Linked DNA regions of Homo sapiens: region 2 is linked to region 1. Evidence: fine-mapped expression QTL. A gene starts in region 1. The other region holds a variant in brackets. All regions are shown on one strand. Distances are from middle to middle. Region 1 holds the start of TNS1 (tensin 1). Region 2 overlaps TNS1 (tensin 1).

The links.
Region 2: its variant is fine-mapped to the expression of TNS1 in whole blood (TOPMed, PIP 0.95).

The regions. Positions count from the first base shown.
Region 1 is chr2:218,001,626-218,004,522 of GRCh38, forward strand. It overlaps TNS1 (tensin 1), which reads right to left and starts at 1,370. Exons shown (of 33, transcript NM_001387777.1): 1 at 1,215-1,370. The coding sequence starts at 1,247. RefSeq lists enhancers at 1-314, 315-815, 2,556-2,655.
Region 2 is chr2:217,840,639-217,843,535 of GRCh38, forward strand. The region is part of intron 19 of TNS1 (tensin 1); the gene reads right to left. Among named protein-coding and RNA genes, the nearest start is that of SNORA115, 8.4 kb to the left of the region's middle. The variant T/C (reference allele first, on the strand shown) is at 1,496.

The DNA.
Region 1 (2,897 bases):
ATGCATCCTGTGTGCAGGCCTCCCCAGTCACTCTCAATCTATTAATCCAATCCATCCCAGCACCCCAGCCCAACATGCCACCCAAACCGCCTCATTCCAGGCCCCCTCCCCCACCCTTTCTTTCTTTGCCCAGAGGACACCTGGCTGCCCGAGTTTGTGTTCCCACAACTGCCCCCAGCATGGGCTTGCCTGGGCCAAGAGGGCCCTCCCGAGGACTGGCCAGAACAAGGAAAGGGACAGGAAAGGCCACATCTGGATCACAGCCCTGAAGCCCCCTCCCCCAAACCAGCCATCACTCTCTCAGAGCCCAACAGTAACCTCAGCCAGGGACGACTTCCTCACCCTCCTGACCCCATGCATGCCTTTGCCTGGCCAAGACAGCCCCACAGGAGCCCCTCTGAGGAAGGGGTCCTCTCCTCCTCTGACCCCCAGCCCTTCTGCAGCAGGCAGCCCTCTCCCATCCCCCTTTACCCAGGAGCCTCAGCCCAGGTCTGGCCTTAAGACTTTTAACCTTCACCACGTGGCCCCCAGGCCTCTCTGCTGGCCCCCCTGGCATCCCCATCCTGAAACCCACCTCCCTGAACCTGGAGCCAAGAGAGAAAGGGGGAAGAGCGGGCCATGGCTCCCTCCTCCAGGATGGAGAGGTCTTGGTAGCAGGGGAGGGCTGTGGAGGAAGGGATGGCAGTGGGTGGAAGCTGAAACTGGGTGTAGAAGGAATAAAAGGGATGGACTCTGAGAATTCTCCCACAGCCCAGCTCTTCCAGACTTAATATTTTGGACTACTATTCTTTGCTCCCCAGCCCCACCACTGCCTCCTCCTCAAGATCTTGGGCTCAGCAACTGAGGGGGGGCGGTGAAGAATTTTCACCCCATTGTAGGATGCAAGTCGGGAGGAAAGGCTCTAAAGAGAAGCAAACTTCTCTGTGGCCTCCTTCCACTTACAGCTCTGGGACTCCATTGGGGGGTGGGGGGGTGGGGCAGGGGATGTACTGACCCGGGACCCTGGGCCTGGGCCCTGTTGGTGGGGAAAGTCTTCCGGCTGAGGGTTGCTCAAGTCAGTCTGTCCTTCTGTAGGTCAGAGACAGAAAGGCCCCTCCTTCAAGACTGACACCCCCCGACCCCGGGCTCTCAGCAAAAGGATAAGGTGGCAGGGGCCGGTGGGGGGCGGGGGGTTTGAGGAAGAGTAACGTCGCAGCTAAAGCAGCCAGACCTACCCAGAGCATGCAGGACAGACAGATCCACGTCATCTTTGCTGGGTCCCGTCACTGAGGCACGCCCAGGGCCTGTGAAGAGCCCCTGAAGCTAGAGTCCCCGCGGCGCTGGCAGAAGGGCTCTCTGAGTCCGCGGCTGCTCCGGCTCCGCCAGCATCTGCTGGGCCTCTCGCCCTGCTGCCTCCAGCTCACCCTCCCTCCTCCTCCTCCTCCCCCCACTCCACCCCTCGTCCCAGCCTCCTCTCTCCTCCCTCCTCCCAGGCTCCACCGGTGGCCTTGAGGGTCAGGAACCCTGCTTTGCAGGGGGTGTAAAGGGGACAGGGAAAAGGGAAAGCTACCAGAGGCAGGGCCCCCCCAGGCCGTGCCCCCCACCCCCGGACACACAACCCCTGTGTGCCACCAAGGCTCCTCAGTCTTCTGATCTGGTGCTGGTAGGCCTGGAGTCCTCCCTCCTCACTGCAGACCCCCGCCCCTGGCAAACCAGCCTGGGGGCCTTCACTCCTGGAACCCTCCAGACCACTGATGGATGAACAGACAGCCCCAGGCCCACACAATCAGCACACTCAGGGTGCCTTGGCCCCTCCCCTTCTCTGAGTACCCGTGCCTGCCTTCCTGGCCTCCTCGGAACACACATGCATTTGCACACACAGACTGGGACAGACTCTGGTGCCCACGCGCCAAGCTCAGAGCCCAGGACAGGCCTTAACACAGAAGAAATAGGGCCCGAGACTGGGGAAGAATGGCCCTGCCCCCAGGCTGTGGGTTTCATTCCAATTTTTTTCCTATTTCTTTTTTTTTCCCCCTTCTTTCTTTCTTTCCTGCAAACATCTGTCCCAGCCTTTCCTGCCCTTCTGAAAGGGAGCCCCGCTCCAGGCTCCCGCGAGAGTGTGTTTTTCTTGACTGTACCCGGGGCCAACATTTGGTTTGCATTTCCCCACTTCCTCCCCCTCCTCCCCTCTCCCCCTCCCTGGGCCCAGTTCTCCCCTCCCACCATTCCACAGGCCTATTTCTTCCCCTCAGTGTCCCCTGCCCACCAGCCCTCCCCTCCCCTCGCCCCCACCTCTGCCCAGGGACAATTGTTGGGGGTCTAGAGGGTGGAAAGGAGGCTGGGTCAAAACCCAAAAGTATTCCCACGGAGCACTAAGGGGGAATCCAGCAAAGTCTGCCCCAGGCCTTCATTGTCTGGAACCACCACGTTCCCCTCCAAAAAAAACCCTTCCTCTTTGAGCTCTGGCCTTGGCTGGACCAACTGAGGGTGGGTGGGGGCCAGTGAATCACCCGCTCTGTTCTTTGGAGCTGTCCAGGAGAAGGAGGGAGGGCTCAGCCCCACACCCTCCTGTGGACACACACACACACAAGGACACAGTCCAACTCACGTCAACACATAAGAGCCCTCCCAGAGTAGGCACTTGGAGACCTCGTTCCTAGACTGAGTCACTTAGCAAGAAAAGTTCTCTTGCCTGGCCTCCTATGCACACTGTGCTATACATGCCCTGGGGCCACATGCACGAAGGGTTACAGATCCCCTGCCTCCCCCCCCCACTCACCCAAGGCCATGCCATGCCGCTGTCTGTCAGCACCACATACCGTGCAACTACCAGCCTCCTCTTTCACAGGGATCTGCCCAGCCACTTGTGCCAACTCCCAGCCCAGGGACCACCCAAGACATCTACCTGGGAAACCCCA
Region 2 (2,897 bases), 160 kb before region 1:
AGTGGACAGAGCAGCAGGGGCTGGGGCACCACTCTGTGTTGTGTCTGGTGGCCCCATGCAAAGCTCAGCCTGGCTCCTGCCGAGACCTAGCCCTGCAGCCCAGGCAGTCTGGCCAGGGTGGCCGGAGTGCTGGACTGTCCAGAGCCCTCCTGAGCACCCTCATTGCAAAGGCCTGCATCTCCTCAGGGGACCCTGAATGTTAGTCTAGTTATTCCAGGCATTGTTCCCAGCAGGCAAGGCCAAGGCTAGCATGAGGCCCATGTTCATGCAGAAGTGAGCTCTGGCTCATGCAGACAGGAGGGAGAGAGGGCTGGAGAGAGGAGGGATGGAGAAGTAAGTGAGGAGACAGAAGAGAGGATAGTGAGAAATGGGGAAGGAGAAGGAGAAACAGATGGAAACCAGAGAACAACAGAAGAGGGAGAGGAAAAGACAGAGGAGAGAAGGAAGAAGGTGGGAAAGATTTGGAAGGAATAGCACATGAAGAAGGAGTGAAAAGAAACTGATGCTCAAAAGTGGGCCAAAGAGCTGGAAAGGGAGAAGGGGGAAGGAGAGCCACCCACCAGAGAGGGAGGAAGATTGGAGCCGGTGGAGAGGAGGGGGCGGGAAGCTGCCACTGTGTCCGATGCCCTGCAGCCTGGCGTTGTACGCTGCCCACCCCCCACCCCAGGGGAGCCAGCAGGGAGTGGGAGGCAGGAAGGAAGGGAGGATATGGGGCAAGGCAGGCACCCCACCAACAGCACAGGGAACAGATGGACATGGGAAACACAGAGAGTGCAGGGGACGGGGCATTAAACAGGACAAAACACAACAAAAACAAAGAGAAAATCAAGATTAGTTGGTGTTCTGACTCTGGTATCTGGGCACACACTGGAGGGAGGTGGGGAAGGTATCAGACAGGAAGAGAGGGGGATCCAAGGTCCTGCTTCTCCAAGAGGCAGATGGACCTCCTGCTGGCCAGCACCACAGCGTTTCCCTCTCTTCTAACCCCAGGGTGGAAGCAGAGGTGCCATCGTGGGACCAGGAGAATTCACGCATCCCTCACCTGCTCCCATAGGCAGCAGGCCTGTCCCTGGACCACCCATCTTTTCCTGGGCACCTGCCTCTCCCTGGACCCAGGTAACACACCCAGCCTGAGCCCAAGGGTCACCCTCTCTCACACCCTGGCTCCTTACCACAGCCATCTGAGTGATCCTCTTTCCTGGGGAACCCCTTGTGCTTTTCTGCTCTGGCCCCCAGCTTCTGGTCATCACCAGAAAAGTCCTTAAGATGAACCTTCTCAGATGCACTAGAAGGACCTGCTATGTTATCCTTTCCTTGCCCCTTGTTGACTTCTAACCCACCTTCACACCACAGGGGCCACAGGAGTGGCCAACATTGCCCCTGCCCTGGCCCCCAGAGTTCAAGCTATGTTACCTTTCCTCTCCTTCACAAGCTGCTCCATGCCAGTTCCTATGCTGGTTCCCTCCTCCTGTCTGTAGCCTTGGAATGTGGGAGG[T/C]TCCAGGACTCCATCCTTGGGACCTCTCCTTACCTGTCCTCAACCCCTCGGTGACATTGCCCAGTGCTATGCTTAATCTGGTATGTACACGTCAACAATTCCCATATCTCTAAGTTCCAGCCTCTTCTCCTTAAACTCCTGACTCATTTATCCAACCACTGCAGATGTTTCATGGTCATCTCAAACTTAATGTGTCCAAAAGTCATGTTTCTAGTGTTCCCCTGAAACTGCTCTTCATAAATTGTTACCCATCTCAATAAAGAGCAACTCCATTCTTTAGTTGCTCAGGCCCCAGACCTAAGCGTTGTCTCTGACTTTTCTCTTTCTCTCTCATTCCATGTGTAATCTATCAGTAATCTTGTTGGCTCTACCTCCAAAATATGTCTAAAATCCGAGCACTTCTCCCCTTTCCATGGCCACTGCCCAGATCAATAGCAGCAGCCACCTAACTGCTCTCCCTCCTTCCATCCTGCCCACCCTGGTCAATTCAGAACAAGTCAGATGATGTCACTCTTGGGCCCAAATCCTTCCTAAGGCTTCTCATGCCACACGGAGTAAAAGCCACCATTCTTACAATCACCTCAAAGACCCTCTGTAAGCTGTCCCTGTTCCCATTTCCTCTCTGAACTTGTGTCCTGCTATGCCTCCCTTGATCACTCTACTCCAGCCATGCCAGGCACACTCCTGCCTCGGGGCCTCTGCACTTGTTGCTCCATGGGGCTCATCTCTCGCTGCCCAGCCCTGATCATCCCATGTAAAGTGCAGCCAGCCACCCCCTACCTCTCACTGCTTTATCTCAATGGCACGTATCACCTATCTGACATATCCTATGTATATGTGCTTATTTGCTCAGTATCCATCTCTGCTGTAAGGGCAAGGATCTTTATTTGCCACCATTTTCACAAAGCCTAGACTGGCAAGCAGCACCCATTAGAAGTTCATGTTGAATCGAATGATTGAATGAGCCTTCAACTCATCTCCTATTTTCAGAACAAAATGTAAAAAAAAAAAAACACAAGAGTTTTCACTTCAAGCTCCCAAAGCTTGACATCAATATTTCCCTCTATCTTTATCTATCCTTTATTCTAATTTCATGAAGAGGTATCTCACCTCCTGGTTGAGCCTAATTTACCTACATGGGCTCCTAGGCCTGTCCCCTCTTACCTCCTTAGAGACCTTATTCTATCAACTTCTTTCTTTCTCTTCTTTTTCTCATCCTTCCTCCCCCCATGTCCAACCTACTCCCCTCCTCTTCTACATACAAACATTCTCATGACTCTTATATTTACAAAAAAGTTCCCAATCACTCACTATCCTCTTTAGCTACCACTCTCTCCTCTCTTATCACAAAACCACTGAAAAGAGTACTTGGCTTGCTGTCTTCACTCCTTCTCCACTCATC